Linked DNA regions of Homo sapiens. The protein of the gene in region 1 purifies or fractionates together with the protein of each later gene. This does not show direct contact. Each region holds a gene or a part of one and is shown on either strand. Other genes may lie near its edges. The genes, in order: EPB41L5, SETD1A and HECTD1.

The links.
Region 2: the proteins of EPB41L5 (region 1) and SETD1A purify together in Homo sapiens (co-immunoprecipitation; 3 studies listed by BioGRID and IntAct, with this or other methods). This does not show direct contact.
Region 3: the proteins of EPB41L5 (region 1) and HECTD1 purify together in Homo sapiens (co-immunoprecipitation; 3 studies listed by BioGRID and IntAct, with this or other methods). This does not show direct contact.

The regions. Positions count from the first base shown.
Region 1 is NC_000002.12:120,086,033-120,089,686, forward strand, and holds part of EPB41L5 (band 4.1-like protein 5), read left to right. Parts: intron 1-1,138; coding exon 1,139-1,208; intron 1,209-3,654. UniProt on the Homo sapiens protein: Plays a role in the formation and organization of tight junctions during the establishment of polarity in epithelial cells.
Region 2 is NC_000016.10:30,971,235-30,974,888, reverse strand, and holds part of SETD1A (histone-lysine N-methyltransferase SETD1A), read right to left. Parts: intron 3,512-3,654; coding exon 3,170-3,511; intron 1-3,169. UniProt on the Homo sapiens protein: Histone methyltransferase that catalyzes methyl group transfer from S-adenosyl-L-methionine to the epsilon-amino group of 'Lys-4' of histone H3 (H3K4) via a non-processive mechanism.
Region 3 is NC_000014.9:31,099,738-31,103,391, forward strand, and holds the end of HECTD1 (E3 ubiquitin-protein ligase HECTD1), read right to left. Parts: intron 3,330-3,654; coding exon 3,179-3,329; intron 1,588-3,178; coding exon 1,443-1,587; intron 1,331-1,442; coding exon 1,193-1,330; 3' UTR 380-1,192; downstream 1-379. UniProt on the Homo sapiens protein: E3 ubiquitin-protein ligase which accepts ubiquitin from an E2 ubiquitin-conjugating enzyme in the form of a thioester and then directly transfers the ubiquitin to targeted substrates.

The DNA.
Region 1 (3,654 bases):
TAAAAATACTAAGATTAGCCAGGCATAGCATGGTGGCACGCACCTGTAATCCCAGCTACTCTGGAGGCTGAGGCAGGAGAATTGCTTGAACCTGGGAGGTGGAGGTTGTAGTGAGCCAAGATCACGCCACTGCACTCCAGCCTTTGTGACAGAGTGAGATTCTGTTTCCTTTCTTTTTCCTGCTATTATTTCTTCATTATTGTTTTAGTAAAGCTCTTGTAAAGTTATGTTTTACATCTATTTTATATGTTATATTTAAAGATTAGTCAATCGGAGTGTCACATTGTTTCGACATTCACAATTTATGGAAATACAGAGTTCAAATGTGTGGTAGGTGGTTTGGAATTTACAAGTAGGGAGATACAGTTGGAAAGCGGGCCATAAAGCGAGGTTAAAAAAATTAAGAAGTATTTCCTCTACCCAAAATTCCTGTTGAAAACAGAGTTGAGGCTGGTTGCAGTGGCTCACGTCTGAATTCCAACACTTTGGGAGACCAGGGTATGCGGATCACTTGAGCCCAGGAATTTGAGACCAGCCTGGGCAACGTAGCGAGATGCCGTCTCTACAAAGAATACAAAAATTAGCCTGGTGTGGTGTGGGAGTAAGGCTGAGGCAGGAGGATTACTGGAGCCTGGAAGTTCACGGCTGCAGTGAGCTGTGAACACACTACTGCAGTCCACCCTGTGTAATGGAGGGAGAACCTATCTCAAACAAACAAAAAGAGTTGAAAACCATCGTCAGTGTTTTTCTTTATGGCTGTTTTTTTTAAGCTTTATGGTCGTTCCTATGTCTAGTTCCTATGCTGCTGCTCTGCTTTAACACTGGAACAATTTTCCCTAGACCTAAAGAATCTCTTACACCATAATCGAGACCTATCAAATACATAGATTTCATTTTCCTTAACATTTTTAATGTCTGATATGTGCAACCTCAATTTTGTCTGAGATTTGCTTTTGAAATATGTACTGTGTTTTTCTGTTTCCTGTCTTTTGATGGGCATTGCAAGTTACGTTTACCGTCCTGTCAATTTTTAGTTCAGGAGTTAGATGGTTAAATGTATTTGAAATAAAAACAATTTTTTTCATATTTAGAGAACATTTGTTTGTAATTTGGCTTTTATTCTCTTATTATATTATAGGCCGAAGATAACCAGATTGGATTTTAAGAAGAATAAATTAACCTTGGTGGTTGTAGAAGATGATGATCAGGTAGGAATAAAATTATATTCTATTACTTGTGTAACAGTGACTGTATTATGTGGTAACTTATTTCTCTAAAAGAGGGAATGTACCTCATTGTTTTAAAGAGCCACAGAATGCAAACAGTATAATTAATGCTTTAAATAATTTCCTTACTTGGGTCATACCATGCTAAAAATATGGTTTTCTGCCCTTAGGATGAAAAATAATATAAAAGTGTCTTCTTGTTTCCTCATTGATCGTATATCTGAGGTGTATAAAAAATTACATTTAAGTGAGCCAGCCAGTCACCCAGGCTGGAGGGCAGTGGCACTGTCATAGCTCACTGTAACCTTCACCTTCTGGGCTCAAGTGATCCTCCTGCTCACTCAGCCTCCTGAGTAGCTGGGACTGCAGGCACATGCCACCACCACGCCTGGCTGATTTTTTCATTTATTTGTAGAGATGGGATCTCAGTATGTTGCCAAGGTTGCTCTCAAACTCTTGGCCTTAAGTAATCCTCCCATCTTAGCTTCTCAGCATGTTGAGATTACAGGAGTAAACCATTGTGGCAGACCAACTTTATCTCTTTATTAACTGATCAAAAAGATCTACCTAATAATAATAAAGCCTTTTGAATTAAAGATTACCTTTGTATCAGTTACAGTGTGGTTCTTAATTGATACATGCTTGGATGCAACTCACATGCATTGTTCTTAATGCAAGAAGCCAGATTTAAAAAATTATGTATTGAATGACTCCATTTATCTGATACTTTAGAAAAGGCAAGAAGAATTTTACTTTATGCAAATTAATAAATTTTAACATATGCATACAGATACAGATAAAAGCAGTTTGAGCAAAATGTTAACAGTTGTTGAGTCTAGACACTATGTATATGGGTATTCAGTTTTTCTGTATGTTTAAACATTTTTATAACGATGAAAATTTTTTTTTTGAATCCAGTTCTTTCATTTTCCTCTGCTCAGTAATTTGACTGCTATACTTTTCCTGTTTTAAACACACAATGGGATACTATGCAGCCATAAAAAAGAATGAGATCTTTTTTGCGGGACCATGGATGGAGCTGGAGGATATTATCCTTAGCAAAGTAATGCAAGAAGAGAAAACCAAATACTACATGCTCTTACTTACAAGTGGGAGCTAAATGATAAGAACTTATGAACACAAAGAAGGCAACAGCGGACACTGGGATCTACTTGAGTGGGGAGGGTGGGAAGAGGGAGAAGAGTAGAAAAGATAACTAACTGAAAGATAACTGGACTTAATACCTGGGTGATGAAATAACATGTGCAATAAACCACCATGACACGTGTTTACCTATGTAACAAACCTTCTCTTGTACCCCAAACCCAAAATAAAAGTTAAAAAATAAAAAAGAGTGCTGCTCTGAACACTAAGGTGTATGTATATTTAGCTTTTGTAGGTACTGCCAAACCTCTTTCCAAAGTATTTAATACGAGTTTATACTCCCACCAGCAATGTTATTGGTGTTTTTTTTCTTTTTTGCTAATGTTTGGAATTCTGTCTTTTTCATTGTAGCCATTCTTGTGGAGTAGAATGTGGTTTTAGTTTGTGTTCCCCTAATGACAACTCTGGTTTAGTACTTATCTGTGTAGTTATTGGATATGTGGATATCTTCTTTATGAAATGCCTACTCAAATCTTTTGCTTATTTTTCTATTAGGTCATGTGCCTTTTAGTCATTGAAAAAATTCTTTGTATGTTCTGGATATTAATTCTCTGTCAGATATTAGTGTTGCAAGTATCGTCTACTCCTTGTTTTGCCCTTTTTCCACCACTTTTATTTTTAGATGACATATAATAATTGTACATATTTATTGCATACAGAGTGATATTTTGATACATGTATACAATGTGTAATTATCAAATCAGGGTAATTAGCGTATCCATCTTTACTGTCTTAATAGTGTCTTTAAATAACCTGAAAAGTACCAAAAATTATAAAATAGATAACCATCTTATTAATGATCTAGATTTAACATTTTTTACATTTTGCTTCAGTTCTCTTTTAGAGAAAGATAAATACAATTATGTGCATGAATAAATAATACCAACTAAAGTCTAACCCCCTGACTACCTACCCCCTTTCTTCTGGTACCTGGTCACCAATTTTGGAGGGTATTATTCTCATATATATTTTGTAACTTTTTCCAAATATTAACTCATGTTAGAATTGTTTTAAAAACTTGCATAATTATATATATTTGCAGCTTGCCTGTTTTATCTAAACGTGTACCTATGTAGATCTAACATATATATATGCTATTGTGTAATATGAATAAACAATAGCACATTCATTCATTCATCATTTATTCATTTATCCCTCTGCATAATTTTTTACATATGCCTCTATTTACTTGACCATTTCTCTTTTTTTGGACGTTTAGGGTTTGTACCAAGTTTTACTATTATAAATGAGACTGAGGAAATAT
Region 2 (3,654 bases), on another chromosome or scaffold:
TTACAGGCGTGAGCCACCGCACCCAGCCTAATTTTTGTATTTTTAGTTAAGATGGGGTTTCACCATGTTGGCTAGACTGGTCTCGAACTCCTGACGTCAAGTGATCTGCCCACCTCAGCCTCCCAAAGTGCTGGGATTACAGGTGTGAGCCACTGCGCCCGGCCCCAACTCTCCTTTCTATCTCAGCAAGAGTGGTCCACCCTTCCAGAAAACTGCCCTCCCCTCATTCCTTAACACCCTGTAACTTGGCTTCAGTCTGAACCACTCAACTGAAATTGATAAGGTCACCAATGACCTCCTAACTGTCAAATGCAACAGATACTTCCTATCTCAGCCTTGCTGGTGGCCTGGTGATACAAGGCCACTCCCTGCTTTGCAGAGCCTCTCCACTACCTGCTTCCCTTCTCGCCTCTGGTCACCGCTCTCAGCCTCCTCGGGCCCTGCTTGCCCACTGCTCTCACAGGATGGGAAGGCTCTGCCCTTTCTCTCCCCCCACTCGCCTACCTGGGTCTATAGGTGAATTCACTGCTACACTTTCAAGACCTAAGCACCGACCTCATATCCAGCCTACCGTTCTTTCCAGACCCCAGATCCATGGATCCAACTGCCACTGTTTCTACTGGGAAGCCCAAGGGGCACCTCAAATGCAACCTCAACTACACTCATCAGTTTTCTTCCTAATCCTGGTTTTCTTCCCAAGTTTCTTTTCCTGGGGAAGTTTAACCAAATCATCCTACCTCCTAAATTTCCCTCCAATCCTCACCCCCATTTCCACTCCACTCTTCTGCCACATTAGAACCGCTCGGCTTTGGTTCATGCCATTAAATCTCACCTGCATCCTTTCAAACCTCCTCATGTCACCCACCTCCTTGCTCCTCTCTTCCAAATCTCTCCTCCTCCTGCTAGAATGGGCTTTCTGAAATGCAGATATGGTCAGGCCCCTCTCCTTCCTGCTCTGATGAGAATGGAAGAGGACTAAGATCCATGCCTTCTGACCTGCCGGTGACCCCACAGGCCCTTCTGCTACCCAATGGGCCCAGAAGAGGTTGGAGAGTCATCTGAGGTGTAATGAGCGCCTCAACTCCCCTCTCATGGGGTCTGGAGCTTAGTAGAGTGCACCAGGGTGAGGAGGTCTTCCTGTGGGCACTGCCTATCTCAGACCACGGATTCTCAACAACGTGCAACTGGGAGACCCCGGGAGGCCATGCACATCTTCACAGCACATCTGATTTTTGAGATGGAGTCTCACTCTGTTGCCCAGGCTGGAATGCAGTGGCATGATCTCTGCTCACTGCAACATCCACCTCCCGGGTTCAAGCGATTCTCGTGCCTCGATCTCCCAAGTAGCTGGGACTACAGGTACACAACACCACATCTGGCTAATTTTTGTATTTTCTGGTAGAGATGGGGTTTCGCCATGTTGATCAGGCCGGTCTCGAACTCCTGACCTCAAGTGATCTGCCCGCCTCGGCCTCCTAAAGCTCATAGCACATCTTGAACACTGACTTATTTGATCTATCCTTGCAACACCCTAAGTCCAAGCTATCACCATAATTCGCCTTACATTCTACAATAGCCACTTAAGAAGCGCCCTACATCCACTGTGGCCCCTTTCCAAGCTTTCTCTGCACTGCATTTTTTCGAAACATACATCTGACCATGTCATTCCTCTGATGGGTTTCTACTTCAAAATAAAGGCCAAATTCCTGACATGGCTGGCCTATTTGTCTGCTGGGCCCAACTCTCACTCACTTCTCCAGTTTCAGCCACCCCAGTGCCCCCTTGTGCTCAACCCTCTGAAGGGTCGGCTTTCTTCCAGTCTTCCAACCCGCTGCTTCCCCTGCTGGAGGGCCTTTGCACACGCTAAGCCAGCCGTGCTGCCTGCTTTGCCCAGACTTCAGCCCAGCAGTACCTCAGCAGGAAGCCTTCCTCCTCCTGCAGATGTGCTCCGGCTGGCTGCCCTGTGCCTCTTCCTGGTGCTTCTCATGGTTCGTAACCACAGGTTTTCCTAGGTATTCTCTCTTTTTTTTTTTTTGAGACAGGGTCTCGCTCTGCCACCCAGGCTGGAGTGCAGTGGTGTGATCTTGGCTCACTACAACCTCTGCCTCCTGGGCTCAAGTGATCCTCCCACCTCAGCCTCCCGAGCAGCTGGGATCACAGGTGTGCGCCACCACGCCTAGCTAGTTTTTGTAATTTTTGTAGAGACAGGGTTTCATCATGTTGCCCAGGCTGGTCTTTTTTTTTTTTTTTGAGACAGAGTCTCGCTCTGTCGCCCAGGCTGGAGTGTAGTGGTGCGATCTCGGCTCACTGCAAGCCTCTGCCTCCTGGGTTCACGCCATTCTCCTGCCTCAGCCTCCTGAGTAGCTGGCACTACAGGTGCCTGTCACCATACCTGGCTAATTTTTTGTATTTTTTAGTAGAGATGGGGTTTCAACCATGTTAGCCAGGATGGTCTCGATCTCCTGACCTCATGATCCACCCGCCTTGGCCTCCCAAAGTGCTGGGATTACAGGCGTAAGCCACCGCGCCCGGCCTCCTATGTATTTCTTACTCAATGAAGATGTCTTTCCCTGTAGACTGTAAGCATGATGAGAGTGAGAACACTGCCTGTGAGGCTCAGCAACCCATCCCCTGCACCTACTGTTTGGCTGCGATGAGCACTCAAAAAAATATCTACTGCTTGAAAGAGCGGTTCCCTCAGCAGGCTAAGCTATGCGAATGTGCTAGAGTATAACAACTAGACGTACAAATGAACAAAGAAAAGCAGCTAGGACCAAGTTCTGTGTTATGTTAATACTTGTTTTCTACCTATTTGCCCATTTAATAACCTGCACTTGTTCACTACTCACTGAAGAACAGGCTTAAGAAAAATTAGGAGGAAGAACTTATTCAACTGGGCACTTTCTCCTTAATTTACTTGAGAAGAGACCAACCCATTTTACTTTAGTATGCAGCTTAGCCTGGGGTTCTGTAAACCACCATGACGGTACAGTTTGAAGTGTGTCAGACAATCAATGTCTCTAGAAGGTAGTGACAGGAGATGGTGACATTTTCTTTGTATGTTTTTCTAATAAAGTCACACACTTGTACACAATAAATGCAAGCACCACTGTTTTCTCTCTCTCTCTCACACACACAGCGATCTAACCGACAGCCCTGTGGCACCTACCTGCAGGCCTTGCTGGAGACGCCTCCTGTTCGGGCAGGGGTGTGACTGGGGAGCCTGCAACCCTTTCCGGCACTGGCACCTCCACAGGTGCTGGCGTGGGCACTGGGACTTCTCTGGGGGGCGGGGAGGCTGAGGGAAGGGCTGCTGGCCGCTCCTCTTCCTCTTCATCTTCAGAGGAGGACTCAGAGGATGAAGAGGACGAGGAGGATGAGGACGAGGAGGAGGAGGAGGATGAGGAGCTGGAAGAGCTGCTGCTCTCGGAGTCTGATGTGCTGTCATTTTCGCCATCTGAGTCAGCATACAGAGAACATTTGGAAGACGAATCGCTTTCCTCGTCCTCGCCTGGAAATCCAGAAGGGGCAGTCAGGAGAGGTGGGCAGACCTCACTTGGCCAGCCGTGGGCTCCTCACTCACTCCCTGCTGTGGATGCTGGGCTCTGGGCTAGGGACGGGGAAGTCCAACAGACCAAGGAGCTGCATAAGCAA
Region 3 (3,654 bases), on another chromosome or scaffold:
ACCAGAAAACAGCGGTATCCCCGTGTTTTGACACACAACATTTAAAAATCATTCTTGGATCTCACTTACATCCTTACTTATATATCCTTATAGATACAATAGTTAAGTTGTGGATCTGGTGTTTTTTTAAAAAAATAACACAAGTAACTGGTCAGTTCTAGCTGAGGCATACTTTAAAACTGAACCCAACCATTGGATCACAAGTGTGTGAATATATATTTCTTCTAGCCTTTCAATTTTAATACCCGTATTTACTATAGAAAAACACATTTCTTTATGTAGTAATTTCAGAAAACTTTGGATGATTCAAAATGACAAGTACCTGCTAAAGCTCTTAAGTCTGATGACTGCATTGAAATAGTCACATGACACAGTTCTGTACGCTGCAAACATTTTAATGATTATTGTTGAGCATACATTTTGGAAATTTTTTACTTCAAACGGCAACAAGTTAAATAAATGTTTATAATATACAAAGAAAATACAACCGAAAGTAAAACTCGCTGTAAGTGTGCCTTGCACTTAGACCAGGTTTTCCCCCCTTAATACATCTTTATTTTTGAGCTGCAAACACACTTAAGACTTTGATCTTCATAGTATGGCATTTAGGAAATAAAAATATACTCCCACCTTAAAGAAATAAAAAGTTTGGTGCATGATTATATGCCAAACAAAGAGAGAACACTAGAATACTCTTGATAGTGCAGGCATCATTAAAAAGGAAAAGAAAAAGCTTGAGATGCTCATTAATTCTCTATGTTTTAAGGAAGCAGGATTTTTGACCAAGTAGCTTAAAAGCCAGCAAAACAGGGATCAGTGACAGCAACTGTAGTGTATGGAGTATGAAATGACAAACTTTACACAAATACACTGTTAGAAATTTACCAGTGAACACTGAAGATCTGAGAAGCTGCTCTTTGGAACAGTCAAGTGGGACCACCTTATTCCAGTCACATAAGCCCTTGTAAAGTAACACAGTGTTCTGTGCTATATACTTGCTGGCTGGGTAGTTACAGGATTTGTTTTGTCATTAGCAGCTAAAAAACTTATTCCACATGTTCTTAAAGCCTTAATGGTGGAAAAAAAGGCAAGTGTCATTAGCATGGTGGATCATATACTTCTCTGCACACAAACACAAGAGGCTTCACTAGTATTTTTAAAGTCTCTGATGTCTCCCATTGCACTTCAAAGCTCAATTGAGATGAAAGCCTTTCTCCATTGTAGCAGCTAGCAGGCGCTCTCTCATGATCTCCTCGGAAGAATATTCAGGCAACTTAAGGTAATGCACACATGTATTGACTGATGGATAGCTTGCATCAGTAGCATCAACCTACAACAAGAAAGCAAACACAACAGAAGACCATGAGTTTAAATACTTCTTTCTTTCAAAAGTAAAGTAACTAAATTTCATTTGGATTCCCCATTAGCCAGAGAGCTTGTACCTTGCGTACAACCGTGAGCCTGGGATGCAGGTTAGCCAGTCCACCTGGGGGTAGAGTTGAACAACCAGTGGTAAACTGCAAGAATGCTTTCCTTTCATCAGAAGACATGCCACATAAAACCCTCACAAACCTCAGGAAACCAGGGCTAAAAGAACAAAAATATAGTTATATTGAGTTGACTGCAGATTTAAATGAAAATCACTACCACTATTTTCTAAGGCAGCAACAAGCCCCCTAAAAAACAATATCCTCACACCAGAACAACAACACATCTAGAGACTCTTGGTTAAGTATGAAATGGGCTAATATAAGCTACTTTAAAAATATCCCGGGCCAGGTGTGGTGGCTCATACCTGTAATCCCAGCACCTTGGGAGGCTGAGGCGGGTGGATCATCTGAGGTCAAGAGTTCAACAGCAGCCTGACAAACATGGTGAAACCCCATCTCTACTAAAAATACAAAATTAGCTGGGCGTGGTGGCGCACGCCTGTAATCCCAGCTACTTGGGAGGCTAAGGCAGGAGAATCGCTTGAACCTGGGAGATAGAGGTTTCAGTGAGCTGAGATTGTGCCATTGCATTCCAGCCTGGACAATAAGAGCGAAACTCCATCTCAAAAATAAAAATAAAAATCCCTCAAAGACTGTCTTGAACTTACAAATTGTAAGAACTAAAAAATACTGACAGTGTATGGGGTCCATCTATTCTGCAACAAAGTCAGCAAATCATAAAAACACAGGATGCACTTGCAAAATCATTTCAAATATGGATAAATATACCAAAGGGGATCTGAAATAATTTTTATTCCAGCAAAATAATTATCTTGTGATAAATTTATGTAATGAAATAGTAAATGAACGACATGCCACAACATGGATAAATTTCATAATCATAATATTACTCAAACCAGACCACAAAGAAAACAGACTACATGATTTCATATATTAAAAGTTCAAAAGCAAGCAAAACTGATCAACATATGGTGATTAGATTAATAGAAAAGAATATGGTGGGAAGGGGGATTTTTGAAGTTGTTTCATATTCTGGATACCAATTATACAGGTGTGTTCATTTTGACAAAATCCTCTAAACTGTATATATGATGTGTGTACTTATCTGTTATATTCAATAAAAAGTTTAATATAAACGTAGTATATAGCCCAACAGCTTACAATTTACCAAATTTTAAAAATGAACAATTAAAACACAATGAGGAAAGGAATCAACATCAGCCATGATGTCAGTTGTCTTTTTTTTTTTTTTTTTTTTGAGACAGAGTTTCACTCTTGTTGCCCAGGCTGGAGTGCAATGGCATGATCTTGGCTCACTGCAACCTCCACCTCTTGGGTTCAAGTGATTCTCCTGTCTCAGCCTCCCAAGTAGCTGGGATTACAGGCGTCTGCCACCACGCCCAGGTAATTTTTGTATTTTTAGTAGAAACGAGGTTTCACCGTGTTGGCCAGGCTGGTCTCAAACTCCTGACCTCAAGTGATCCGCCCGCCTTAGCCTCCCAAAGTGCTGGGATTACAGGTGTGAGCCACCGCGCCCGGCCTGCTGTCAGTTGTCTTTTTGTATCCTCCCAGCCTTATCAGTGGATATGCATTCTGGTAACTGTGAGACACCACTGCTTTCTCACTTACTTTATGATACTCACTGAATTAAAGTTCTTTAGAGAATCTGTCATTTGATTTGGGGAATATAAATAATTTTGTTGATCTTGGAAAATAGTATCACATACCTGTCACGTGTATAACCCAGCTTAGGTTCAGTGTAATTGATAATATCCTCTGCTGCCCAGGATGGTGACTGGTTTCCACAAAGAATCATTTGGACTTCTTCATGGCTGAAGGAACTTAATTTCTCCATTGGAAAAACTTTATTAAACCCATCTACATCGTACATGTAACGGAAACACAAAAAACAAACATACAACTCAGTTTCCAAGTTACGATTCCAAAATACCAAATTTCAAACCAAAATACCCATTATCAGAATCAATCTAAGTATCTATCAAGGGATGAATGTGTAAAGAAAATGTGGTATATGTACACAATGGAATACTATGCAACCATAAAAAAGAATGGGCTGGGCACGGTGGCTCACGCCTGTAATCCCAGCACTTTGGGAGGCCGAGGCAGGCAGATCATGAGGTCAGGAGATTGAGACCATCCTGGCTAACACAGTGAAACCCCGTCTCTACTAAATATACAAAAA